4 separate regions of the Homo sapiens genome follow, and all the other regions are linked to region 2. The links come from fine-mapping of genetic effects on gene expression. A gene starts in region 2. Each other region holds a variant in brackets. All regions are shown on one strand. Distances are from middle to middle.

Region 1 (5,000 bases), 28 kb before region 2:
TCAATCATGACCGAGTCAACACCATAAAAGATACTTTCATTACTGCTGCACTGGTCCTTCAAATCCTCTGGGCTTGACTGAACATCAGCAAACCATTGCAATTATGTGTGGAACATTTTTATTGATATTGCTCCACTGAAATATAAAATAACTATGTGCCGGCTTCTGAGATCCAGGAAACCTCCACCGAGGCAAGAATGTCAGTTACACTGCTCACCTGCAAAGCTGCCTTCTGTTGGGCTGCAATATGCTGCTGCTCAGCGTGATCCCGGAAGTCCTTATTAAGAGAGGGTCTCGAGAGTGCAATGCTAAAATGGGAATCTTGGTTACTCAGCTGCTTAAGGCAGAAACATCCTTACTTTTTTTTGGATGGTAGTAAATTATCTTCTTTTTTTTAAATTGAGGTATCCTTGACAAAAACTGCATATACTTCCAGTGTACAATATGATGTTTTAGTATTTGTATTTGTTGTGAAATGGTTAAATCAAGCTAATTAACATATCCATCACCTCGCATACTTACCATTTTTGGTTGTGGAACATTTAAGATCTCTTAGCAATTTTCTTAGCAAAAAATTCTCTTAGCAATTTTCAAGTATGTATCATTAACTATAGTCACTATGCTATATAGTAAATCTCTTAAAGAGATGTCCTTACTTCTGAATCACAACTTTTCATTATATATTCTTTATAGGGGTAAAAAAAAACCTCCAAGAATAAGTCTTTTTTCCTTCTCTCACTATCTTCATGAATTTATATAAGAAAGTCTATGTTATTTACTGAGATTTTAAATGGTCTGGAAAATGTTATAAAATGTAGACCTTATCCTAACAGTAATAGGAGACCTCCAAAGAGTGTTAGGCAGCAGGGGAGTGACATGATCAGAAGTATAACCCTCTTGGCCAGGCGTGGTGGCTCATGCCTGTAATCCCAGGACTTTGGGAGTCCGAGGCAGGAGGATCATTTGAGCCCAGGAGTTCAAGACCAGCCTGGGCAATACAGTGAGACCCCATCTCTACAAAAACAAGATTAACCAGGTATGGTGGCATGTGCCTGCGATTCCAGCTACGTGGGAGGCTGAGATGGGAGGATCGCTTAAGCTTGGGAGGTCTGGAGAAGGTGCCACTGCACTCCAGCCTGGGTGACAGAGTGAGACCCTGTCTCAAAAAAAAGAACTATCATCCTGTAGTTCAGAAAGACCACTATTGCACTACTGTGGCAGACAGTGTTGGTCACCTCCTCAACAGTTGTTTGTCTCCTTTCCTCCTTGCTGATGGAACCCAAACTTGGTTCAATTATCAGTAGTCACATGCTTCAAGGCAGGCCAGGCTCATGCCCCAGGGGGTAGACCTTGATTGATGTAAGACAATGTCATTCCCCTAGCTGGTTTCTGGTTTAGGCAAGAGAAAGGTACATAATCTGGGCAACCAGACTTGATGGGTGTCTACAGGAAGGCTTCTGAGAGTGTTCTCCTCACTCTTACAAATGGGACACACCATAGGAACCTTTCAGGCTTTTTCCTCTACAGGTGGCTCAGTGCGGGGTGATGCCTAAGCCACTGCAGTCATATTCTGGCCTGAGGGAGCCACTGACCCATGGGGTAAAGCAGAAAGGAAAGATGAATGAAGCTGCATCACTAATGATATTGTGGCCACTGAATTAAGCTACTCTGGAACTACCTTATCTTCACACTCTTGGTTAACAGATACCCAAATGTTTATGCCAATTTTGTTATATTTCTGTTACTTCCCGATTAAAGCTTGCTAAATGACACAACTGATGAATGTATTCAAGAAGCGTAAGACCACAGGAACTCTGAAGCAGTTATAATAATTGAGGCAAGAAATGAGAGTGGCCAGGAATCAGGATAGCATCAGTAGCAATGAAGGAAATGGTCAGATGTGAGACACCTTTCAAAGTATAATCACAAGAGAATGGTGAATGCTTGGAGATGAAAGTGAAAGGAATGGTAAACAACTGAAGTTCACATTTCTGACTTTGTAACTAGTAGATGGCAGCCTGAACCATTTACTGAGACAGGATACACAAGAATATTCAGTAGCTGATTGGAGAGCGGGGAGAATGAGTTCAGGTTGGGACATACTACATTTGAAATGCCTGTGGACATCAAAGTAGAGACATCCAGGAGGCAGAGGTGGTGCTTAGAAGAAAGGACAGACTAGAGCTGCAAATGCGTAAGTGATTAGCACGTAAATAACAGCATGTGGGAAAAGATGCAACTGTCCAGTGAAAACAGGCAGGCTAGGAAGCCTGGTCTAGAACAGAATTCGAAGGGCTGTCAGCATTCAAGGGACAAATAGAGAAATGTCCACAAAAGAAATCAAGATAGTCTCCTCCTACTGTGTTTTACATTCTCCGAGTGAGCAAATGGAAGCCAAGAGAGTACTTTAAGAGAGTGGGCCGGGTGCAGCGGCTCACGCCTGTAATCCCAGCACTTTGGGAGGCCAAGGTGGGTGGATCACTTGAGGCCAGGAGTTTGAGACCAGCCTGGCCAACATGGCAAAACCCCATCTCTACTAAAATTACAAAAGTTTGCTGGGTGTGGTGGGGTACGCCTGTAATCCCAGCTACTTGGGAGGCTGAGGCACGAGAATCACTTGAACATGGGAGGCAGAGGTTGCAGTGAGCCAAGATCGTGCCACTGCATTCCAGCCTGCACAGCAGAGACCCTGTCTCAAAAAAAAAGAAAAAAGAAAAAAAAGAAAAGAAAGAAAGTGATCAGTGGTGTCAAATAACACTAAGATGTCTGATAAGAAAAGGACTCTGGTCTGCCAGATTTAACCCGGGAAGGTTACAAGAGACCTAGGCAAGAACATTTTCTTTGATGGAGGGCCTGGAAGTCAGACTGCAG[C/T]GGGTTGAGGCATCAATAAGTGAGAAAGTAAAGATGAGTACAGCCAATTGCTTTAAGAGAAAGACAGAAGAGAGTTAGGGTGGTGGTGGCTGAAGGGGATAATGGATCTTTTTTGTTTGTTTGTTTTAGACAGTCTTACTATATCATCCAGGCTGGATTGCAGTGGTGCAATCAGCTCATTGCAGCCCCAACCTCCCAGGCTCAGGTGAACCTCCCACCCAGCCTCCCAGGTAGCTGGCACTACAGGCATGCACCACCATGGCTAGCTAATTTTTTGTATTTTTTGTAGAGATGGGTCTTGCCACGTTGCCCAGGCTGCTCTCGAGCTACTGGGCTCAAGTGATCCACCCACCTTAGCCTCCCAAAATGCTGGGATTACAGGCGTGAGCCACCATGCCCGGCAATAATGGATCTGAGGGAAGATACTAAATATGGCAGAGACTGAATACCTATAATAAAGATCATCAAGCTACCTAAATTTGGCCTACTTTGCAGAATGATTAAAAAGTGGGGCACTAGCAGCAATTGCAGTAATAAAAAACCATACAAAACTCAAAAAAAAAAAAAGGCTATAAGGGCTAGGTGCAGTGGCTAACGCTTGTAATCCCAGCACTTTGGGAGGCTGAGGCAGGAGGATCACTTGAGGCCAGGAGTTTGAGACCAGCCTGGGCAACACAAGACCTCACTTGTTTCTACTAAAAAACAAAAAAATTAGCCAGGTATGGTAGGGTGCACCTGTAGTGTGAGATACTCAGGGGCGATCACCTGAGCCCAGGAGACTCAGGATGTAGTGAGTTATGATTGTGCCACTCCACTCCACTCTAGGTGACAGAGTTAGACCCTGTCTCAAAAAAAAAAAAAAAAAAGTCTGAAGGCTATGAAGTCTATAGGGAAAATTAAATATTCTAGTTAGAATGTTTACAATTTAATCAACTAAACAGTTTGTTAAAAGTCTGACTAGGAAATGAAGGGAACTAGAATATGTCACCTAAAATATGCTTCTTTGATATAAAAATTATTTTTGAGCTGAAAGCAATTAAGAAGCAGCTCAGTTAATAGGGTTGCTTAAAAATAAAAATAAAAGGCAGCAGCAAACTGAGGAAAAGCTCTCTCTCTCCCCTCCCCACTTTCTGCCTAAAGATAGGATAGAACTTCTCCTCTACTGGAGACAACTCTAGACTCTTAGCCTAGGGACAGCAGCAGAGGACTCTGCCAACAAGCCTTACTCCATTCGTTTTCTCCATATATTTACCTTCTCAGTTTCCCACCCCAAGAAGCCTAAAATCCCTTTTGTTTGTTCCACATTTATTGTTCTTTGTTGAAGATGCTATATAAGTAGAGTTCTAAGCCATGATTTTGAGTTATAAGGTTTCTCCCTTGTGATGTGTGCTGCATGCACTCATAAATTTGTTTTTCTCTTGTTAATCTGTCTTTTGTTACAGAGGTCCCTCCCAATAAGAACTAAGTTGGGCACAGGTAAAGTTTAGCCTCCCCTATACAAAGAAAACACAATGAATAGATTGCAGTGTTAAAGAAAAAAATCATTGCCAGCCAACTTGAATTATTTGGTCCAAGAAATTTTTATATCACTGAATATAAAAACCACATTACAGGCCAGGCACGGTGGGTCACGCCTGTAATCCCAGCACTTTGGGAGACCAAGGCGGGTGGATCACCTGAGGTCAGGAGTTCAAGACCAGCCTAACCAACATGGTGAAACCCCATCTCTACTAAAAATACAAAAATTTGCTGGGTGTCGTGGCAGGTGCCTGTAATCCCAGCTACTCGGGAGGCTGAGGCAGGAGAATCGCTAGAACCCGGGAGGCGGAGGCTGCAGTGAGCCGAGATTGCACCATTGCACTCCAGCCTGGGGGACAGGGCGAGACTCCGTCTCAAAACAAAACAAAACAAAACAAAACAAACAAAAAACCCACATTATAGTGTCAATACCTAGCTCCAGGATGATTTGTTGAAGACTGGTTCTGCATAAGTAGTTTTCTTTTCTCTTTGTCCAGTTCTGCCAAGATTGCAACTCTATTTTTGTTTTGAAAACCTAAAAAAAAGAGGGGAATAGGAGAAAAGGGAGAAAGAGAGAGTAATCAGAAACATTTTAGACCTATTTTTATAAC
Region 2 (7,782 bases):
TCTGTCGCCCAGGCTGCAGTGCAGTGGTGCAATCTCGGCTCACTGCAACCTCCGCCTCCTGGGTTCAAGAAATTCTCCTGCCTCAGCCTCCCTAGTAGCTGGGATTACAGGTGCCCGCCACCATGCCCAGCTAATTTTTGTATTTTAGTAGAGACGGGGTTCCTGACCTCAAGCAGTCCACCCGACTTGGCCTCCCAAAGTACTGGGATTACAGGCGTGAGCCACCGCTCCCGGCCTGCTATTCATTTTTTAAATTCTGGCTACAGTAACTGCCCTATGCTAAATTTTCTCTTATTCAAATACATTTACTATATTGGGGAAATGTTCATAGTAAAGAAATTCCTGCTGTCATTACCTTGTCCTGAAGAGTTTGCTGCCATTTTCCTATTTTGTTTCAAGTATGTCCAGTGGCAATTGGTCAGCACTTCACAATCACCTATAAAATATGTGTACACACATATACAATGCACCATATTTTAATCACAAACTAAAAGGAACAGCTAGCCTCCTTACAATGAAATGTTTGCTGTTTCTTAATCTCTTCAGAAAGATACATTTGTGCCGGGCGCGGTGGCTCACGCCTGTAATCCCAGCACTTTGGGAGGCCGAGGCGGGCGGATCACGAGGTCAGCAGATCGAGACCATCCTGGCTAACATGGTGAAACCCAGTCTCTACTAAAAATAAAATTAAAAAAAAAAATCAGCCGGGTGTGGTGGCAAGCGCCTGCAGTCCCAGCTACTCGGGAGGGCGAGACGGGAGAATCACTTGAACCCGGGTGGCGGAGGTTGCAGTGAGCCGAGATCGCGCCACTGCACTCCAGTTTGGGCCACAGAGCGAGACAGCGAGACTCGGTCTCAAAAAAAAAAAAAAAGAAAAGAAAGAAAGATACATTTGAAATGTACACAGACTGAAACAAATGTAAACTCTGCTAGTGCCTCAAGCATTTAATTAAATACGGCATTGTTTATTCTTGCAGATGTTCATACCATTTAGCATTACTGTCTTTAATAAACGTCATTAGGTTGTATTTACCAAATATATCAACCAATTGATAGAGTCAATATAATCATGGTGCTAGGAAGAAAAATCATTCATCTATGGTGTCTCTGCATTCGTCTAAAACACATACCCAAAAACTACTGTGTACACTGAAAGCTAAAAAAGGTAAAGGAGTACTGTATCTGCTCTGCACCATACACTGTGTAACATGCTCGAAATTAGTTCCTTTATTTATTTATCACCATTTTATAGATGAGGAAACCGTACCCAGGGTCATAGAGCTAGTAGGAATTATTTGGGCTGCTGGTTTCCAAACTTCGTGCTTTCGTACTAAATCCTGGGGAGATCCAAGATGAGCAAGACCCTAATCCTGCTTTCAGAAGGGAAAATAAAGTCTTATTCAAGCAACCATACTATTAATTAAAAAAAAAAAAAGCTTAACAAACCCGCTCTTTAAAAGGTGGGCACAGTGCCGGAGGCAAAGAATTGATTTCATTGGCAGCAAAGAGTGATGCCTTAGTCTAGGGAGCCCGGGAAAGACACAAGGGATAGAAAACAGACACCGGTTTTTAGTAAATGAATCGTTAGGTGTCTCCAGCGGCTGAAACACAGAGCGAGCAATGCGGGGTTAGGACTGGAGGACAACAGGGCCATCTTGTGACAGGGTAGACTGGCGTGCCAGAAAGGTCCCTGCCTACGGATGTGCAGAGCCGGCTGGGCCCGGGCTGTGAACGAGACGAAGGAAGCAAGTAGGAGCCAGAAATGTTAGGTGGCAAGGTCGGAAGGGAGGTCGCTGCCTGTAGCAACAAAGACGGCGGCGACAGGTTAGCACCGGAGCCACACTTTTCTATTGCCCGGTGCCTCCAGACTGTCGTACTTACCTGGGACCCGAGGACACCGGGACCGCCTCTCCTTACAATCGCTGCTCTTAAAGGGGGCGCGACCACTTAGGCAAGAGGAGCTCAACTCGCGGCACTACAACCTTCCCGCCCCCGCTGCGCTTCCGCCTCCTGACTGACGTGCGCCCCAGGGAGCGGAAACCCCGCCTCCCGCCGGGACCCAACGGCCACCGCCCGTCGTGATTCGCACTTTAGCGGCCACCTCAGTGCAGACGTCACTTTTTTTTCCAAAGAGTGACAGTCGAAGAGGCTCACGGGAGATGCAAACGGTACTTTTGGGGGCTGGGCCAGGGTGGGGCGTGGCCCGGGGCGGGGGAGGGGCGGGGCTGCCAGGCAGGGGCGGGACGGAGAACACCTGGGTCCCTAGCACCAAGACTGGCTTTTTATTCATTGCCACCGCCTGGCCGGTCTTGCGACGGTGCGAGTCCACCTCGGCTGGGCCTCGGAGGAGGGGCGACTCTAGAAGCTAAACTCGCTTTCGAGCTTTAACAACCATCTCGGATTGCGCATCCGCACACACACACACACACACACACACACACACACAAATTCAGGAATATTTTTTGTCTACAGTTTACATAATTATACACAATGAAAGCACTGAATATGGAGGATTTTTATTACAGTGCAATAATCTGCATTTAAGAAGTGGATGTGCCACATCGCAGAACACCAAGTTGCCACTAGTGGGATCACCTGCTGCCCACCTGATTCCAGCACAGTAGATAGCTACACATTTGAATTAAAAGGTAATCGTATATTGACATGTGTTCAAATTGCACTCTTTTTAATTTAAAAAAATATTTTTTATGGTGACAGTGTCTCGCTTTGTTGCCCAGGCTGGTCTTGAACTCCTGGCCTCAAGGGATCTGCCCACCTCAGCCTCCCAAAGTGCTGGGATTACAGGCGTGAGCCACCTGCCCTGCTTAAAATTGCAGTGTCTTAATCTCTTCCGAAAGATACATTTGAAAAACGCACAGACTTAAATCACAAATGTAAGCTCCCCAAGCGCCTCAAGCATTTAATTAAATAGAATGGATAATGAATTTGAACATATGTTTTTAATAATTGATGTTTGCTCAAGAGTAAAATGTTTATGATGCACAATTTTCTTGTGCATGGATCAATGACTGAAATAATCGTTTCAATATCAAGTATTTATTTACTGAAAACCAAGCATGTATTTACTCTATACCAAGCAGCTATTGAGTGCCTTCTACAATGCGAGGTGCTTCCTGTGCATCAGCTCTGGTCCTGCTGTTCCCTGATTTATATTTGAGACTCATGTTTCTTGCTCTATGTCAAGTAGCGAGCTAAGATTCAAATTTAAAGATCTGCCAGATGCTAAGGCCTGAGTTCTTAAATCTCACACATTGCCTCTGCTCTGGAGGAATGAATTCCTCTGAGACCAGTTCTTGCTGACTTGACTTTAATCCAGATATAAAGCCTAACACATGAGCATTTTGATGGTAGGCCAGGAGTCCTTTCAGTTAAGAGGACTTGGTGAGTTCTAGTATGACTAAAAAGATGACTGAGATCTATATGGCTGATAGAACCTTAGAATTTTTTTTTGTTTTGTGGCCTAGCTAATATAGAAACTAGGGCACAGAAAGTTCCAGTCTAAGTTTCAAATGGACATTCTGAACAAAGCTTATTTAAGGAGGTGGGAGTAAAAACAGTTCTAACCCTAAACAACATTTTATAATTTCTTAGCAAATTCAGCCTCTGAGAGTTGAAAGAACATTATCAGGAGAAAGATAAATTTAACTTGCTGCCAATTCTTTTGCCTTTTACTTGGTAGGTCATAGCCCTTGAAACCCTTCTGTCTTCTCCTAGAGTTTTTGGAACTTCTGCCTCATTGTGTTAACCTCTAACACAGTGGTTAATAGTGAGTCAGTTTACTTGAATGCAAATTCGAGCTTTGCCACTTAATGATGGTGAGCCCTGGTTTAACCTTTTGGTGCCTCTGTTTTGTCATCTATAAAATGGGAATAAAAATAAGTGATTGGGTATACGTAAATCACTTAGAATAGCACCTGGCACATAATAAGAACTCAATAAATGTTGACTATTAGAATATAAACAATGAACAATCTGTTTTACTGGGTGTCTTGGCAAGTGGTCAGTAGATCAGCTGAGCCTGGGTGTGGTGGCTCATGCCTGTAATCACAGCACTTTGGGAGGCCAAGGCAGGAGGATTGCTTGAGACCAGCCTGGGCAATATAGTGAGACCTCATCTCTAGAAAAAAATCTAAAAAATTTGCCAGGTACGGTGGTGGGTGCCTGTGGTCCCAGCTACTTAGGAGGCTGAGGTAGGAGGATTGCTTGAGCCCGGGAGGTCAAGGCTACAGTGAGCTATGATTGCGCCACTGCAGTCCAGCCAGGGCAACAGAGCAATAGACCCTGTCTCCAAAAAAAAAAAAAAAAAAAAGAAAAAGAAAAAAAAAAAAGAAAAAAAACGTCAGCTGAGAAATATACTAGGGGAAAGTCCAAGACAGAAGGAGTGCATGTTATAGCCCCTTGGCTCTATTAACTGATAGCTGTCTGTGAATTACTTTATCCTGAAACCACTGTGGTTACAGACCTTCAGTATCAAGGTAGAGTTGACAGTAGTTCCTAATTTCCAACTGAAACCACTCTAACCTCCTTTTCTGGTATTTTGTGATAAAGTATTTGGGGATCTGCATGAGGCTAGACAACCTTTAAAATCAAGTGTGTAGCAGTTTGAGACAATTACTGTATTAGTTATCTATTGCTGTGTAACAAATTACCCTGAATCTTGGCAGTTTAGAACTTGGGTTTAGAACCTGGCCCTGCACTTACTGGGTGAACACTTAGACAAGTTATTTGTCTGTTCCTCAACCTCCTTATCTGTGGAAAGGGGTATTAAAAGCACCTACCTTATGCCATTGTTTTAAAGATTAAATAAAATCAAACCAGATGCCTCATACCTATAAGCTATTATTTTCTATTAAACATTAACTCATTAGAGTATTAAAACAATATGAAACATCATGAAGATTTTGTACAACCAAATGTGGTGGCCTCCAAGATGGCCCTCCTGTTGTCATCCCTTCCCACATTGAATAAACTTGACCCAAGTAACCAATGGGATATTGTGGAAGTGTCAGTATGTGACACTGATTGCAGTTGCTACCTTGGCCTCTTTTGGGTCACTTGCTCTAAGGAAGCCATGTATATGTCATGAGGTCACTAAAGCAGTCCATTTGGAGAGCCCAATAAAGAGGAACTGAGGCAAGCCTTCCACCAACAAACCAGCACCAAGTTGCCAGTCAAGTAGTGTTCCACCTTGGAAGTGGATCTTCCAGCCCCAGGCAGGCCTTCAGATGACTGCAGCTCTGGCTGACATCTTGATTGCAGCCTCGAAAGCAATCCTGAGCCAGAACCACCGAGCTAAGCTGTTCACAAATTTCTAATCCACAGAAACTATGTAGGATAGTAAATATGGCTTGTTTGTAGTTGTTTTTGTTGGTTTTTGAGACAGAGTCTCACTCTGTCACCCAGGCTGGAGTGCAGTAGTGTGGTCTTGGCTCACTGCAACCTCTGCCTCCGGGTTCAAGCGATTCTCCCGCCTCAGCCTCCCAAGTAGCTGCGACTACAGGCACATGCCACCACACCCAGCTAATTTTTGCATTTTTAGTAGAAACGGGGTTTCACTATGTTGGCTAGGCTGATCTCGAACTCCTGACCTCGTGACCTGCCCACCTTGGCCCGGCAAAGTGCTGGGATTACAGGTGTGAAGCACCGCGCCCGTCCAGACTAGCCTTTTTAAAAATAAACATTCAAGAATGTTCTAAAATAGGCCGGGCACGGTGACTCACACCTGTAATCCCAGCACTTTGGGAGGCTGAGGCAAGCAAATCACCTGAGGTCGGGAGTTCGAGACCAGCCTGACCAACATGGAGAAACCCCATCTCTACTAAAAATGCAAAATTAGCCAGGCGTGGTGACACATACCCGTAACCCAGCTACTCAGGAGTCTGAGGCAGGAGAATTGCTTGAACCCAGGAGTCGGAGGTTTCGGTGAGCCAAGATTGCACCATTGTACTCCAGCCTGGGCAACAAGAGGGAAACTCTTGTCTCAAAAAAAAAAAAAAGTTCTAAAATAAAATGTAAAAAACACCACAATGCCTTTTACCCCTCTCTGTACCACTACCTTCTATGCAGAAGATTTCTGACCATTATTAGCCTTGGAGGATTATCTAATTAAGGGAGATGGTAGGATTCATTTAGAATGAATTCTCCACATGGGCAATGATATTATCTAGAATGATAAGAAGAAAGACTGAGCCAGGGGCCAAAGTCCTCCATGAATATGTCAGTAGATGACAGCAATGAGAAGAGGATAAAGATGGTATAACCAGATGTACCTGCTTCTAAAGATTTGGAGTTTTTACATGATGGAGGAAGATGTATAGTTTGGAATTGAGAGTGTGGATTCTGGAAATACTGAAGCACCCTTCCCCTAACCCCATGCCATGATGTATGTGGTTGGACACAAGAGGATTTTCCACCTTACATGAACACAAGGGAAGCTATCCTTGAAGGAGAAGTGGGTTTTAGTTAAATCAGGAGGTAGACAGATGGTCTAATGGTACAGTGAAGAGGAACTTACTTATCATGGAAGGAAGACTTCTAGCAACTTTGGGGGAATGTTGTTTTGAGGCTGAGGGGGGTGGATCACTTGAGGCCAGGAGTTCGAGACCAGCCTGGATAACATGGCGAAACCCCATCTCTACTAAAAATACAAAAATTATCCGGGTGTGGTGGTGTATGCCTGTGGTCCCAGCTACTTGGGAGGCTGAGGCACGAGAATTGATGGAACTCAGGAGGCAAAGGTTGCAGTGAGCTGATATTGCACCACTGGACTCCAGCCTGAGCAACAGAGTGAGACTCTGTCTCAAAATAAATAAATAAATAAATAAATAAATAAATAAATAAATTAAATTAAATTAAATTAAATAAAAAGTAAGGGTTTTCGCTGGGTACAGTGGCTAACACCTGTAATCCCTGGGAGGCTGAGATGAAAAGATCCCTTGAAGCCAGGAGTTCAGGACCAGCCTAGGCAACAAGGCAAGATCCTGTCTCTACAAAATGTTAAAAATATGTTTAAAGATTAAAAAAAGAGAAAAGAAAAGTATTTTATTTTGCCACTGTTTTTTTTTTTCATTAAATAGATTGGGACTGGGCACAGCGGTTCACGCCTATAATCCCAATGCTTTAGGAGACCAAGGTGGGAGGATCACTTGAGACCAGGAGTTCAATACTTAGCCTACTCAACACAGCGAGAACATGTCTCTACAAAAACTAAAAAAATAGCTGGGTATGGTGGCGGGGGCCTGTCATCCCATCTGTGCTAGAGAGGCTGAGGTGGGAGGATAGCTTGGGCCCAGGAATTCAAGGCTGCAATGAGCTATGTTTGTGCCAATGCACTCCAGCCCAGGTGACAGAGCAAAACCGCAACTCATAAATAAATGAATATTAATAATAAATAAATAAGTAAATAGATCAAACCCTAGTGTTTTCAATGAACTATGAAAAGGACTCACTAAACTGCACTAAGCTGCTTGTGGAAAATGGCTGCAGGAGTGAAGTGTAATCCTTTATGTCATCTACTTCTAATTTGGTCACTTCTAAGGGACCAGGTTGCCAATAATGTTTTAGTATCCTCAAAGTACCTAGAAGAGTGCTAAGCAGGTATACCTGATGATTGGTCTTTAATGTAAACCTAATTAAAGCTGAAATGTGCCCTTTCATTCATTTATTCAATAAACAATGCTATGTCAGGCACTGAAAATACAAACAAAATGATCTGTCCTTGTCTAGGGGATGCTTTGGATTGTGCAGGCCAGAATCCCACTT
Region 3 (8,092 bases), 64 kb after region 2:
CTCTCAGCTGGTGAGGAGCAACGACAGGCTGTCACTGTACCCCACCAATGCTTTTGACATGTGCTCATCTCAGGATATGTGTGCAAGGGTGAGGATCTTGGCCTAGGACGGGGCTGACTGCTGTTAGACTAGGGTGTACTCAGATTCCAGTCTGCAACTGTGGGGACCAACGTGCTGCTTCTACCTTTTGGAGGAGGCACCTGCTGTTCTTCTAAGCAGTGAGCTTTGTTCTGGTGCCACTGCTGGGGTGCGTGTTTTTGTGGCCATGCATACATGTCTGTATTTTTCTGTTTAAACATGTACATGTATGTATATGAGCAGGCAGAATTGGGGTGAGAGGGCAAACCCAATCACAGCCAAAAGTCCCTTGGTTAAAAAGGGCATGAACAGAGTTTTGGAGATTGTTTCCTTCAACATTGTGAATGTATTTAACACTAGTGAACTGTATACTTAAAAATCGTTAAGATGGTAAGTTTTATTTTATGTGTATTTTACTACGGTTAAAAAAGAGAGAAAGAAAGTTGTAATTCCTGCTTGGCACAGCCTAAGGAAATCATTCTAGAGTCCTCAAAATTCTTGATGTGGGTTTGCTGATGGCAGCTGGAAGGGGATCTCTAAGCCTTCTATTTGCACTTCTGGAAGCTGTTTTCTTTGCACCAAAATCCAAGAAGAATGGGTTTTTTGCTTTCTCTATGTGGGCTCCTCCCTTGGTGTGGTAGCGCCATCATGCATAGAATTTAAAATGTTCCTTACATCTACCATCTGCACAGCATTTGTCTGACTGCCACTTGTGTCTTCTGCTACCTTGGGTGATTTTGAGGACTGTCTGCTTTCCCGGGGCTTGAATTTCATAGTAAGATGAAATTCACTAGGTATAAATATTACCATCTGTCATTAGTCACCACTGACAGAGGAAAAGCACTTGGGTCATTGAAAACAAATGGATACGGTAATGTGCTCTGAATCTTTGTCCCCGGCTTAGACATTGATGACGCTTAGCCATGGCTGAAAATTGAAGGTGGGGATGCCAGTTCTGTTATCAACATTTTCTCTTTAGCCAAGATGATTCAGCCCGTCACAGAGTCCCCTAACCATAGTATTGTCATCCAGCCTACATTCTCTCTTGTTTGCAAAGTCCTTCCCTTGCTCTTTTGGCACTGAATGGAGCTTTGAAAAAGCCATTTTATTTTGGTGGTGGTGTCCTGAATATATTTTTAGTGTGTTGTAGTAGAAACAATGTGGCTTTGCAATCAGAGGTAATCTTTTTAATCTTTGTCACTTTGGTGGGAGAAACAATATCTTGTTTTCATTTTCATTTTGTATGCTATTGATGATGAATGATTATTGTTTATTGGCTATATTTACATAATTTGTTCATTTTTGTAGTGGAATCTGCCTTTTAAATACTGATTTTTCAAAACCCTTAATATGTTAAAGCAAACAACCTATTTTCATGTATGTTCAAATCCTTTCCCCAGTTTGTTATTTATATTTTAATCTTTGTTATGTCTTCTTGACATAGAAAAAAAATTGCTGTCTATTATGCTTTTCCTTTATGGATTCTGCTTTTTGTTGGGGTTTAGAAAGCCTTTCCAACCACAGGATTTTATATACTATTCATCGAAATCAGAAATTGGCAGACTAAGGCCAAAAGGGTGTATCTGTCCAGCTGCCTGTTTTAGTATAACCCATGGGTTAAGAATGCTTTTTTATTGTCTTGTTTAATTTTATTAAAACTTTTTTTTTTTAAGACAGATTCTTGCTCTGTTGCCCAGGCTGGAGTGCAGTGGCGTGATCTGGGCTCACTGTAATGTCCACCTCTCAGGTTCAGGGGATTCCCATGCCTCAGCCTCCTGAGTAGCTGGGATTACAGGTGCCCACCACCACGCTTGGCTAATTTTTTTTTTTTTTTGTATATTTAGTAGAGACGGGGTTTTGCCATGTTGGTCAGGCTGGTCTTAAACTCCTGAAATCAGGTGATCCACCCGCCTTATCCTCCCAAAGTGCTGGGATTACAGGCATGAGCCACTGCGCCCCGCCCACCATTAGTTTTAAAAGTGATTTTTACATTTCTAAGTGGCTGATGAAATAAAAAGAATTATATTCTGTGCCATGTGAAAATTAGTGAAATTAAAATTTCAGTCTTTGTTAGTAAAGGTTTTTTATTTTTTATTGTTTTTTTGAGACGGAGTTTTGCTCTTATTGTCCAGGCTGGAGTGCAATGGTGCAACCTCGGCTCACTGCACCCTCTACCTTCCGGGTTCAAGAGATTCTCCTGCCTCAGCCTCCCGAGTAGCTGGAGTTACAGGCATGTGCCACCATGCCTGTTTAATTTTGTATTTTTATTAGAGATGGGGTTTCACCATGTTGGTCAGGCTGGTCTCTAACTCCTGACCTCAGGTGGTCCGCCTGCCTCAGCTTCCTAAAGTGCTGGGATTATAGGTGTGAGCCACCATGCCCTGCCATAAAGTTTTATTAGAACATAACCATCCTCATTTGTTTACCTACTGTCTATAGCTGCCTTTGCACTACAACAGCTGACTTGAGTTGTTGCAGGAGAGATACTGTGGCCACAGACTGTTCCTTAACAAAAAAGTTTGCTGACCCCTGGTATAAATCATCATGTAGTACTCATTTTTTTAACCTTTAAATGGCCTGACATTTATTTTTGCATTTAGCATTAGAGAAACTATTTTCTAAATAGTTAACCAAAAAATCCATCAGCATTTATTGAATAATCTATTCTGTCTTCACTCTTTGAAGTTCCATAGTTATCATTATTAAAACTCAGATCTGTTCCATCAGTTTAGGGATTGACATGGTGAGTTATCAAGCTATTTGGATAAGAGAGATGTTACTCAAGAGTTCCCTGGAGATGAGATTCCCCTTAACCTCCTGCATTAACACTGAATGTTCAAGTCAGATGTGCCCCTGCACAATGCTGTCTGACCACTCACATTTATTTCTATTGTAAGAGCAGACACTGGTGGGGCCTCGTTTTATTTTTCCGGATTCTGTTGGGGATTGCTGATGGCTAAGTGGAGCTGTGTGTTAATGGTTTCTGGTACTTTGGGTTGGATCTTCTCTGGAGCTGGCTGACTCTTCAGCTCCCTTGAGAAGAGAAGTGGCTTGATTTATTTTTCTGCCACTGGTGGTTCAGGAGTTTCATTGTTTTAAGAAACACTAATGAAGAATTGCTTACCACCAGGCACTTCTCCAGATGCCACAGATGCAAAGGTGAATGTGGTGGTAGTTGGGGGTTTCTTGTCCGGTAGGTAACTGTTTAATGAAATCTCTGGCGCCATGGAGGCAGACGGTGAAGGGCTACTAGCCTCTGCTCTGGAGTCTCCAGGCTGGGTTGTGCCTCTGCTTCTTATTAGCTGAGTGACTTCTTGTCTTTTAACTTTCCTGGTCTGTAACCTGTTCTCTTAATAAAACAGGGATAATAAAATTCCTCCCCTCTGCCACCAAGTTATTTTAAGGGTTAAGTGAGACATTTAATATGTAAAGTGACTTACACAGTGCCTGGCAGAGAGTGTGAACTTAAACATTTAATTTCTTTATCTTCCCTTCCCTTGATTTAGAGCTATATGTATAGACTGCTGTGAAAGGATGGATTTTGTCCCTAAGTCCATCTTAGCCCCAAGACTTTGCTTTCTATTTTGGGGTTTTGTTGTGGTTTTGAGTCAACTCATAGTCCAGGTTCCCGGGCAATCAGCTGTCCACCTTTTGCTGTCTGCCAAGGGTGGGTCCATATGTCCTAAGGAGAACACTCAGGCCAGGTGTCAGAGCCAGGTTGCGATGACAGTCTGTGGGCTGTTTGTGCAGCTGGCCTCCTTAAATGGACTATGGTCAAGATTCCCCATGTCAGTTTCTGTGCTGAGGGCTGCTGGTTTGTGAGAGTGGAAAAAACGGTTTGAATCAGGTATCACTGAAGCAAATTACTGAAGGTGAGTGACCTGTGAGAGGCAGCTGTCACGTGGGTAAGAATATGTTAAGGTGTACCCAGTGACCTTGGCTTGAGCCTTTGCTGAACACAGTCATTTCAGTAGGACTTGCCCTCATATCCTAAGGATGGGCTCTGTAGATGGCACACAGGGCTGTTGAACTTGGGTTTATTCAATTTTGCTAGAATAATAGCAGTTTCTAATCCTCTGTAATTTACCTGAATTGAAACATGATTCCTCCTGGTGTGGCCAGACTGTTTTTTTCCACCTAGGAAACATTCATCAGGGTATCCCAGGCCATATGATCTTAGCATTGACAACACCTCTCATCTGCCCTTGCCTCTCCTGGCACCTACCCCCTAGGTCAGGTACTACTGGGAGAGGGGTACCTGGACAGTTGGCAGCTCCCCAACTGCTCCCTCTCACGTCTCCTGTATTTCCCTCTTTATTTTTTCTGCATGCTTTTTTCTGAAGTCTTTTTGTAAAATGTGTCCATGATTGCAGCTTGCTGCTTAACAGCCGTTACCTGTGGGGTGCACCTCAGATTGTTAAGCCTGTTATTTAAGATTCCCTAGGATTCTGGAGCTAATCCACTTTCCAGGCCTTA[T/A]TTCCTGCTGCTTCCCCTAGAGCAGCTCATGTCCATTCAGGATGACTGGTCCCCTGCCCGTGCCTTCTTTTTTGCCTTCTGCACTTCACCCCTTGGCGATTTTGCTGATGTGGTGTTCCGTGCCAGGAACACCTTTCTCTTCCATTGAACAGCTCTGCAGAGTTTATAGAGGACTTTCTCACACATCCCCAGTAATCTCCATGCAGCCTAGCCTGGACCAGGTTTTGCTGTTTTCCAGTGAACGTCAGTAGGTTTAAGTGGTTTTCTTATGACCTCATAGCTGGTAGGAGAACTAGAATCTAAACCCGGGTCTCTTGCCATCCTGCCAAGCCCAGGTCAAACCTCCCTCTCTGAAGCCTTCCTCGGAGAACAGAATTATTCTGGCTTTCTTCTGGGCTCTAGTACACAGGTCACCTAAACTAGATTCCTCAAGTAAATTCCTTATTGGCTCCCTTTCCTCCACATCTAGAATAGCACCTAGCAGTCCATGGGAACTTGATAAGTGTTTGGATGAATACATAAGCGAACAGATTTTGCTTTCCATATCTTCTAATACGTGGTTTGGGGGAGTATAGCACCATGTTAATTAGGCTGCTTAAAACTCCTGTGTGTTGGAAAACACCTATGTTTTGGTCTATAGAATAAATAGGGAGTGATTATTTTGTCCCACTCTTTCTGCCATCTCATAGAAACATAATCAAGTATTTCATTACTTGAAGAAGGTTGCTTACAACACATTTAACTGTATCTATATTTTGGGAATGTAATTTTTTTTTTTGAGACATGACCTCACTCTGTCACCCAGGGTGGAGTATGGTAGTGTGATCACAGCTCCCTGCAGCCTCGACCTCCTGGGCTTAAGCGATCCTCCCACCTCATCCTCCCGAGTAGCTGGGACTACAGGTGTGTACTACCATGCCTGGCTAAGTTTTTTTTTTTTTTTTTGGAGATAGAATCTCACTCTGTCACCCAGGCTGGAGTGCAGTGGCACAATCTCGGCTCACTGCAACCTCTGCCTCCCTGGTTCAAGCGATTCTCATGCCTTAGCCTCCTGAGTAGCTGGGATTACAGGCATTTGCCACCATGCCCGGCTAATTTTTGTATTTTTTGTAGAGATGGGGTTTTGCCATCTTGACCTGGCTGGTCTCAAACTCCTGGCCTCAAGTGATCTGCCTGCCTTGGCTTTCCAAAGTGCTGGGATTACAGGCATGTGCCACCACGCCTGGCCGTGCCTGGCTAAGTTTTAAATTTTTTTGTAGAGATAGGATTTCACTAGGTTGCCTAGGTTGTTGGTCTTGAACTCCTGGGCTCAAGCAATCCTCCCACCTTGGCCTCCCAAAGTGCTAGGATTACTTGCCAGCCTAGGAATGTAATTTTTAGCTAAATTTTGTCTAACAACACTATACCTAGGAGAAGCTTTGAGGAAAGCCACCTCTCCCTTAATCTATCAGCACCCTTTTCAACAATAACCTTAACTAAATAATAATAATATTCTTCAGCTGATGGTTTTCTGTATCATATGTGAAGTGGAAATAAAAGCATCTTTAGAAATCCTTACAGCTTATTGATCTCTTGCATATTGGCTTCAAGATAAGCCCCCAAGCCTCTCCATACAGATGGATACCCTGTAGTTGCTGCTGTACTAACATGTAGGAGCTGTCCTTTTTTTTTTTTTTTTTGGAGACAAGATCTCACCCTGTCACCCAGGCTGGAATGCAGTGGCACCATCTTGGCTCACCACAGCCTTGACCTCCTGGGCTTAGGTGATCCTACCACCTCAGCCTCCTGAGTAGCTGGGACTATAGCCGTGCACCATCACGCTCTGCTAATCTTTTGTATTTTTTTTGTAGAGACAGGGTTTTGTTGTGTTGCCCAGGCTGGTCTCGAACTCCTGGACTCAAGTGATCTGCCTGCTGTAGCCTCCCAAAGTGCTGGGATTATGGGCCTGAGCCACCCTGCCTGGCCTCTTGTCTCTTTTCTGACTTCATTTTACACCTCATAGTTTATAGCTAAGTAAGGCTGTAAGAGTTTTTTTTTCCTCATTCATTCCTTCACTTTCTTCCTTCTTCTGTGTCTGTCCCTCTCCTAGTAGTGCATGGCCCTTGTTTACAGAGCTCATTTCTGTCTCTGGACTCAGAATGCCCATGTGAGAGGGCAAGACTGTGTGACCAGTATTAAATTTAAGGCCCTTTTCTTTTACGTCTGTCCTTGACTTTTTTTTTTTAAACTTTTGAGATGGGGTTCCACCATGTTGCCCAGGCTCATCTCGAACTTGTGGGCTCAAGCAATCTGCCCACCTTGGCCTCCCAAGTGCTAGGATTACAGGTGTGAGCCACCACGCCTGGCCCCTTCTTGCCTTTTTAAAATTTTCTTTACCTCTCCTTGTCTGGTTACTTAGGTGTGAAACTCCTTTGAGCCATTTTGGTTTAGAATACCCTCTTCCTGTTTTTTCTCTTATTCTTTAATGTTTTAACTATGATCAGACTCTTGGTTCAGGGCCTTTTTCTTTTCCAGTGAACACGCTAACCATGGGAATAGAAATCACCCACATTCGGTCTGAGTCATGTCAGTGGGAATGTGGGAATTCGATCTGGGGCAGCCAGGTAGCCAGTCAGGTGGCGCTCCAGCCTGGAAGGCCATCTGTACTTTTGGGTTGTAGGCTAGCACACTTCAGGATTCTAAAAAGATGCTGTGTGGAAACTGTGTCTCAGGCCTCGAAAAGTTCCACGGAAAAACATCTCTTCTAGCTGCTTTGTGGTGAGATGCAGATCTAAATCAATACAACATTATTGAGTGCCACAAAACTAGTACTGTACAGGGAGAACCTGTTCTGTACGGGGAGAAAAAAATGAAGTGAAGACACTGTGGAAGGAAGTATGACCTATTTGAATGTAGTCACACGTTTCCTTCTCATTTAGCACATCCTCTTGTGTTCATTTTAGGTTTGGATTGAGGATTTAAGGACAGCCCCCAGCCCCATAGGTAGGGTATGGGTGTCACAAATCATTAAATGTGGAAGTACTATACTAGAGGGCAGTTTGAATTTGGGTAGCTCAGGTAGGTCGAAATGTATTTCTGTTTCCTATTTTTAGTTTAGAGAGACAGTTTAGAATCTGTCGTGATTTTTTTCCCTCCCTAGGTATTTTTGAGGCTCTAATAATTATAGGTTCTCTCCTAAGAAGCTTAGATGTAACATCTAAGCTCCCAAAGAAGATTGGCATTTGCATGTGCACATGCAAATGTTGGTGCATAATTTTTGGCCCCCAAGGTGCCTATGGGTTTCAGAGAGACAGTCCCTATTGTAGAGGAATGGTGAGTTTTCGGTAATTTTTGAGGCAAGGACGCTTTTTTTTTTTTTAAAGATGGAGTCTCGCTCTGTCGCCCAGGGTAGAGTACAGTGGCGCGATCTTGGCTCACTGCAACCTCTGCCTCCCGGGTTCAAGCAGTTCTTCTGTCTCAGCCTCCCGAGTAGCTGGGACTACAGACGCATGCCACCACACCTGGCTAATTTTTTTTTGTATGTTTACTAGAAACAGGG
Region 4 (8,092 bases), 38 kb after region 2:
TAAGCCACTTTTCCTTAGAGGCTAAGCATTGTAATTTCTTTCTCTGACTAGGAGTAACATTTTCCTTGAATCTTGGCATACACGTATGGTCTCATAACTCTGAAGAAATTTCTGTAGAGAGAAGCTAGCAAGCCACAGAGGTGAGTCAGAGCCAGAAGAAGGAAGCCTTCCCTGTGGCTGGCTTTCTCCTACCTCAGCAGCATGAGGGTCATCAGAGGGGTGTTAGGACAGTTCAGTGCTATGGTCTGTCTTTGAAAAGAAGCCAGTTTTGTCTTGTTAGATACTGGGGTTGTGATCCTGGATGACAGGGATTCTGCGTCAGTTCTGGGCCAGGGGAATGAAGGTTTGACAGGCTGGTCATAGTACAGGGTTATTATGCAAAGGGGAATTGCTTTCTGAGGGCCCAAGATGGTGCGATGAACAGGGTAGCCTGGTGTCTTGGTCCAGCTGACGCTTGTGAATGAACTCTGTAGTGCTTGGGTAGAAGAGAAAGACTGAATATGATGGACTCTCCACCAATTTCTCAAATTGTTCAAATCATGGTGTGATGCCTCCCTTCATAGGCTCCCAAAGGAGGAATCCTTTCTATCTACCAGAGGTTGCCAGGACTAATTCTTTTGATGCCTGCTAAACTCACTGGGCCTTTTTTTTTTTTTTTTTTTTTTGAGATGGAGTCTCACTCTGTTGCCTAGGCTAGAGTGCAGTGGTGCAGTCTCACTGCAACCTTTCCCTCCTGGGTTCATGTGATTCTCCTGCCTCAGCCTCCTGAGTAGCTGAGATTACAGGTGACTGCCACCACACCTGGCTAATTTTTTTATTTTTAGTAGTGATGGGGTTTTACCATGTTAGCCTGGCTGGTCTCGAACTTCTGACCTCAGATGATCTGCCCACCTCTGCCTCCCAAAGTTCTGGGATTACAGGCGTGAGCCTCACTGGACCTTATATGGCTATCTCCATCTAAAATGTAAATACATCACTTAGCCTTACTCTCCTTTTTTAACTTTCATCTGTAAATTGCTCCAGGCTGCTTCTCCTCTGACTCAGCCTCTAACTTCTGTACCCCTCCCAAAACTTAATACTGGATTCTTAAGCCCCATTGTGTGGCTAACACCTCCTCCCACATCCTCAATCTCTTCTCTGAACTCTTCATCTACTTCCTGCCTCCTTAGGTCACTTAGACGTCCTCTGAAGTCTTCAAAATAGAGAAGGCTTTTCCTCCATCACCTTTTACAAACCAGGCTCTGCTCCTTTGAGGCTCCTGTCATTCTTTTTGTTCATTTGATACATATTTGAGGGCCTACTATGAGCCAGGCACTGTTCTAGGAACTTGAATAAATTAGCTGAAAACCCTGCCCTCACTGGATACATTTCAGCAAGTTTGTACTGTATTACACCATAAATGCCATGGAAGGAGGAAAAAGGAGAACTGGCCGCGAGGAAGAGGATTTGGCAGGCCTTGTTGAGTACTTGATATTTGAGCAGACTGGAAGGAGGTGAGGGAGTTAGTGGGTGAGTATCTGAAGAAGACTGTCCGGGGAGGGACTGCCTGAAGCAGAGGCCGGAAGGCACAGGGCTGGTGTGTCGGGGAGCAGCCTAGAGGCCAGTGTGGCCAGGTAGAGTGAGCATTGGAGAGTTAAAGGCTGGGGGCAGAGAAGGGAGGGGTCAGATTATATTGAATGTGGCCGGTCACCCTGAGGACTTTGGCCTTTATTGCTAGGGCCATGGGGTGGGAAGTTAACATGGGCAGGGGACATTTCAGGGTCTTGAGCAGGAGGGGGGCATAGTTTGATTATATATTGAAAAGGATCACATAGGCTGTTCAATTGAGACTACCTTGAGCATTCCCCTGAATTAGTTAGGATTCTTTATTAGTTAAAAAGACATGAGCTGAATGCAAACTAGATAGAGGAAAATAAAAATCTACTGGCTCACGTTGCTGAAAAGGCCCAGGTATTTTGGCTTCAGGGATGGCTGGAGCAAGGTATTCCAGTGATGTCGGGGATCTGTCACTTTCCATCTCTTGGCTCTGCTTTCTTCTGTGTCAGCCTTGTTCTCATGCCAGTGAAGGGATATGTTCTATAAACAAGCTTCCCAGCTCCAGCAGAAGGAGAGCACTCCTTTCCTGATAGTTCTGGCCAAAGCTCTGGGCTGGTGTCTCATTGGTCTAAATTGGGTCAGGCGCCTAAACCAGTCTCTGATTCTGATTGCGCAGACTTGAATCAGGTACTTATCTTTGGAATGAGGAAAGGAATTTTTTTAAAATTGGGGAATATATACATGAAGTTTATAACAATGTGTGTATATAAAGAGTAAAAGTTATCTGTACAGTTTAAAGACTAATAAAATGTTCCTACCCCCAGATTAAGATACAGAATATTACAAATATTTTGGAAGCCCCCTCTGTGCCTGGGAAGGGAGGAGGTGGTTGCCAGAGCAAAATCAAGAAATGTTAGACAAGCAGGAAACAAATATCCACTACAGACCTTCCAATACTGTTTTCTTTGTCATTTTCCAACTTCACACCTTCTCACTCTCATTCATTAAATCTTTAGACCCCAACTTACTGTCTTCTGAAATCATGTCCTCACCACGGGGCTTTAATCATTCACATGGCTGATCTGTCCAACTCTCCAAAATTACCAGTTTCTTGACCTCCTTATCTGTAATCATCCTTTTTTTTTTTTTTTTTTTTTTTTTTTGGGATGGAGTCTTGCCCTGTTGCCCAGGCTGTGGTGCAATGGCACGATCTCAGCTCACTGCGATCTCAGCTCACTGTAACCTCTGCCTCCAGGGTTCAAGCGATTTTCCTGCCTCAGCCTCCTGAGTAGCTGGGACTACAGGTGCCCACCACCACGCCCAGCTAATTTTTGTATTTTTAGTAGAGACGGGGTTTCACCATATTGGCCAGGCTGGTCTCGAACTCCTGACCTCAGGTGATCCGCCTGCCTCGGCCTCTGAAAGTGCTGGGATCACAGGCGTGAGCCACTGCGCTCGGCTCCTTCACCTTTTTAACAGTTCATCTGCTCTCTCCCACGGCCGCACCCTGCGTTGTAATACCTAGAAGCATTCCAGCTCTGAAATAGTGCCACTGGATATTATCACATTTTATTGTGTTTATTTAAGGTATACAACTTGATGTTATGGGATACACATAGATAGTAAAAGTTTACTATAGTGGAGCAAATGAACACAGTCATCATCTCATAGTTAACTCATTTTGTTTTTGTGGCAAGAGCATCTAAATTGACTCATTTAGCATGATTGTCAAGTACAGTACAATTTTATTATTAATAACTCTAGTCCTCATGTTCTACATTAGATCTCCAGACTTGTACACTCCTCCATATCTGCTATTTTGTATCCGTTTACCTACATCTTCCCATTTCCTCTCCCACCTGCCCTTGGTAGCCACTATTTTGTGTTCTTTCTCTATATATTTGAATTTTTTTAAAGATTCCATATGTAAGTGAGATCACTCAGTGTTTTTCTTTCTGTGTCCGGCTTGTTGCACTTAGCATAATTTCCTTCAGGCTCATTCACGTTATGGCAAATGACAAGATGTCATTCTTTTCTGGGGCTGAATAATATTCAGTTTTGTGTGTACACACACAGTACAGTTTCTCTATCTGTTCGTCCATTGAGGCCTGCTTAGGTTGTTTCTATATCTTGGCTATTGTGAATAATGCTGCAGTGAATGTGGGAGTGCAGATATCTTTATGAGGTGTTGATTTCAGTTCCTTTGGGTATGTGCCCAGAAGAGGGATTGCTGGGTCATATGGTGGTTCTATTTTTAATGTCTTTAGAAACCTCCATACTGTTTTCCATAATGGCTGTACCAATCTACATTCCTAACAGCGTTG[T/C]ACAAAAGTTCCCTTTTCCCCGCGTATATCATTTTGTCTTGCTTTCCCGTCCTGGCTTTCCAGGTCTCTGAGTCATTAACAACTGACTATACCTGTTCTGTTCTGTGACCTCTTGGATTCCCCTACCTCCTTTAGATTCTGTGGCCCATCTCCGTGGTTGCTCCTGCCTCTATATTCAGTTCCCTTGCTCTCTTCTTTTTATACCCAGCTTGGATCATTCCATTTGTTCATGTCTTTCATCTACAACCAGGGTTCTCAGGAAGCTCAAGGGTTGCTGCCAATGTAAGTTCACAGGTTTCAGCCACAGCTGGGGCTTCAGTGGTCCTGGACACTCCTTCTTTTCCACAGACCCTCCGTCTGCACAGTGGCTTATCTGAAACTTTTCTCTGCTCCTCATACCCTCTACCCTTCTACTCCACCCTTCCTTCTGCTGATTGCCTCACCTTCCACCTTAGAGAAGATGGAAGCCACCAGAAAGGAACTTCCCTTCTTCAAATTTCAGAATGATCTGACTCCATAGCCATGTTTTCTTTCTGGCCCTTGTTCCAAGGAGAGAGTCTAAGGCTGACTGAGGGTGTAGACCCACCTGCCACCCCCCATCCTCTTGGAGACCCTGCTCTGTTTGGCCTCCTGACTTACCCCTGTATCTTTGGACTCCCTCTCAACCAGCTCACTCCCATCAATATTTAAACATGCTCAAGTTGCGCTCTCTCTTTTTTTTTTTGAGACAGTATCTGGCTTTGTCACCCAGACTGGAGTGCAGTGGCACGATCTTGGCTCGCTGCAACCTCTGCCTCCTGGGCTCAAGAGATTCTCCTGCCTCAGCCTCCTGAGTAGCTGGGACCACAGACGCGCATCACCATGCCTGGCTAATTTTTGTGTTTTTGGTAGAGATGGGGTTTCGCCATGTTGGCCAGGCTGGTCTTGACGCCTGGCTAATTTTTGTGTTTTTGGTAGAGACGGGGTTTCGCCATGTTGGCCAGGTTGGTCTCGAACTCCTGAGCTCAAGCGATCTGCCCGCATCAGCCTTTCAAAATGCTGAGGTTACAGTTGTGAGCCACCATGCCTGGCCAAGTTGCTCTGATTTTTAAAACACAGAAAGAGTGGCTGGGCGTGGTGGCTCTTGCCTGTAATCTCAGCACTTTGGGAGGCCAAGGCAGGAACATTGCTGGAGGCCAGGAGTTTGAGACCAGCCTGGGCAATATAGTGAGACCTTGTCTCTGTTAAACACACACACACACACACACATACACACACAATCGCTTGAGCCCAGGAGTTTAAGACCAGCCCGGGCAATATAGTGAGAACTTGTCTCTATTAAACACACACACACGCGCGCACGTGCACACACAGAGAGAAAGAGTAAAGGAAGCTCTGCTATGATGTTCTTTTCTCCTCCATCTGGTGCCTTTTTTTTGTGGGGGTGGAGATAAGGTCTTGCTTTGTTGCCCAGGCTGGTCTCGAACTCCTGGCCTCAAGTGATCTTCCTGCCTCAACTTCCCAAAATGCTTGGATTATAGGCCTGAGTCACTGTGCCTGGTCTTGTGCCCTATTTTGTGACTCCTCTTTACAATACACTTTTCTGAAGAGAAGGTTTGCGGCCCTTGCTTCCACTTCCTGACCTCTGACATACTCCTCAGCCTCCTGCTGCCTAGTTTCTGACTCTGTTCTTCAGGGTCCTCAGTGATCTCATTATTGCTAAATCCAGTAGATGCTTTATAGTCCTTATTTTGCCTGACCCCTTGGTAGGTAACACTTGATCCTGTTGTTAACCTCCTGCTTGAAATGCTTCCCCTCCACTTCCTGTTTTAAGGTGTGCACACGGGCCAGGCATGGTGGCTCACGCTTGTAATCCTAGCACTTTGGGAGGCCGAGGCAGGCAGATCACAAGGTCAAGAGATCAAGACCATCCTGGCCAACATGGCGAAACCCTGTCTCTACTAAAAATACAAAAAGTTAGCTGGGCATGGTGGCGCACACCTGTAGTCCCAGCTACTTGGGAGGCTGAGGCAGGAGAATCGCTTGAACCGGGGAGGTGGAGGTTGCAGTGAGCTGAGATTGCGCCACTGCACTCTAGCCTGGCGACAGAGCAAGACTCCATCTCAAAAAAAAAAAAAAAAGTTGTTCATGCTGGAATCATGTTGTCTGGATTTGAATCTCAGCCCCACCACTTAGAGTCTTGGTAACAGCAAGTTGTTTAACGTCTCTGAGCCTCAGTTTTCTCATCTGTGAAAAGGGGATAACAGATGTGCCCATGTCACTGGGTTGATAGGAAGACCCAGCGAGTTCGTAGAGTAGTGGGTGATGTATATAGCGAACCTTTAAGAAATGGGAGGTGTTGGTGGTTGTTATTCCTTGATATTGTACTCTCCACATTTCTTTCTACATTTTGGCCTATGCTTTGTCGATTTCTATATTAGTTGAGGTCTGATCAGGGAATAAAAGCCAGTGAAGTTATTTCAAACAGAGAGACTATAATACAAGGAGTTAGTTGCATAGGTGATGGGTGGTAAATTGACCCAGAGAGTAGCAGTAGCAGGAAGTTGCTGTTACCCTCAGGACTGGAGGGTTAGGGGAAGAGGCGAAGTTAAGTAGAACCCAGGAGCTTCTGTGAGAACTAGACCTGTGGCAGGGTCATTGAGCAGGAGCTGGGACCTTAGAGGAAGGGGGCCCTGGAGGGGAGGCAGCCGCTGCCAGTGGCACGATCTGAGGCAGAGAGCAGGTTGGGACAGAAATACCCTGGCTTGTCTCCTCATCCTTCCCATTCTGGTCTAACATCAATATCTTTTATTAGCCAAAATAGCATCCCTGGTGGATGTGTGACCCTAACAGAGCCAGGCAGTCTTTCCTGAGATTTATGAGATGGATGATGGGGGAAAGAATGTCTTGCCTTTCTACTAGATTGTGAATGGTCGTGTCCTTCAATGCAGAGAGTGCTTGGCTTAAGAATGAAGCCAGAGGGAAGTAGAGCTAGGAGAGGAAGAGGGGCAAGATCATTTGAGTTCAGGATCCGACTGTGCCAGCTGTGCCTGAAGTTAGAACGGGTTCCTGGTTATAGGGGGTCATAAATTCCCTTTTGTTAATACTGTTTTCAATTTGGTTTGCCACTTGAAACTTAAATTACCAATACCGTGACCTTAAAATATGACTTGAAAATTGGGTTTTACCTGAGGAGTAGGGAGAATGGGGTGTTTATTCCTATTGGCAGCCCCACTAGCTGGGGGTATGTCTGCAGATCAGCTGAGGTCGCAGAGGTTGTGTTTTCACCAGGTCCGTGAAGTTGGAGGGGGCTTTCAGATGTGGGGTGGGAAAAGCCCCAAGGTGAAGGGCAGAGACAGGAAAGACCTGTGGCCGCTGGAGGAGGACTGAATTGGGTCATGCGTTGGGAGTGGGTTTTGAGAGTCTAGAGGTGGAGATTAGTGAGAGACGAGGTGGGTAGACAGGTCAGGAGGTTAATGAGACTGTTTTGAGTGCTGTGATGTGGAGGTTAGCTTTTATTCTTTCAGCAGTAGCTAGTCCTAGAGGGCGTGGTTTTGTTTGTTTGTTTGTTTGTTTTTGAGACGGAGTCTCGCTCTGTCATCCAGGCTGGAGTGCAGTGGTGTTACCTTGACTCACTGCAACCTCCGTCTCCTGTGTTCAAGCGATTCTCCTGCCTCAGCCTCCCGAGTAGCTGGGATTACAGGTGCATGCCACCACGCCAGGCTAATTTTAGTATTTTTAGTAGAGATGGGGTTTCACCATGTTGGCTAGGCTGGTCTCAAACTCCTGACTTCAGGTGATCCACCCTCCTTGGCCTCCCAGAGTGCTAGGATTACAGGTGTGAGCCACTGCTCCCGGCCCCAAGAGGGTTTTTGAGCAGGGGGATGTGTGATCAGGGCTTGGGATGGGGAAAGACCAGCCGTGAAAGAGGTAAGATAGGAAGAATTAACCTGGTTTTGGTTGGACTTGTTGCCTGACAAGAGAAAGATTAGAAAATATAAAGATGACAGATTTTGGTGTAGTGGGGGTGACTGACTAGAAAGTCCAGGAGATTGATGCTGAACAGTGGTGCCGTCTTTGAGAGGGGGGCGCAGACCGGGAAGCACATGTGCGAGTGAAGTGTAAAGATGACGTGGACACGGTTTCAAGTCAGGCATTCAGGACAGAGGATGCCTGAAGGCCACTGTTGCAAGCCTACTCAAACTTCAAGGCTCAAACAAATGCTGCCTCCAGGAAGCTCTTTTTTATTAAAT

Evidence for each region. PIP is the estimated chance that this variant, and not a neighbour inherited with it, causes the effect. A credible set is the group of variants that fine-mapping cannot tell apart.
Region 1: its variant is the best candidate, but not a certain one, in a credible set for the expression of INIP in blood mononuclear cells (TOPMed, PIP 0.77).
Region 3: its variant is the best candidate, but not a certain one, in a credible set for the expression of INIP in whole blood (TOPMed, PIP 0.84).
Region 4: its variant is the best candidate, but not a certain one, in a credible set for the expression of INIP in nasal epithelium (TOPMed, PIP 0.54).

The regions. Positions count from the first base shown.
Region 1 is chr9:112,689,310-112,694,309 of GRCh38, forward strand. It overlaps INIP (INTS3 and NABP interacting protein), which reads right to left. Exons shown (of 5, transcript NM_021218.3): 3 at 4,822-4,924; 4 at 218-308. Among named protein-coding and RNA genes, the nearest start is that of INIP, 26 kb to the right of the region's middle. The variant C/T (reference allele first, on the strand shown) is at 2,872.
Region 2 is chr9:112,716,106-112,723,887 of GRCh38, forward strand. It overlaps INIP (INTS3 and NABP interacting protein), which reads right to left and starts at 2,012. Exons shown (of 5, transcript NM_021218.3): 1 at 1,882-2,012; 2 at 356-436. The coding sequence starts at 380. RefSeq lists an enhancer at 1,594-1,693 and a silencer at 2,064-2,223.
Region 3 is chr9:112,779,902-112,787,993 of GRCh38, forward strand. The region is part of intron 1 of SNX30 (sorting nexin family member 30); the gene reads left to right. Among named protein-coding and RNA genes, the nearest start is that of SNX30, 33 kb to the left of the region's middle. The variant T/A (reference allele first, on the strand shown) is at 4,555.
Region 4 is chr9:112,753,764-112,761,855 of GRCh38, forward strand. The region is part of intron 1 of SNX30 (sorting nexin family member 30); the gene reads left to right. Among named protein-coding and RNA genes, the nearest start is that of SNX30, 7.0 kb to the left of the region's middle. RefSeq lists enhancers at 816-1,430, 889-978, 1,431-2,044, 2,080-2,759. The variant T/C (reference allele first, on the strand shown) is at 3,861.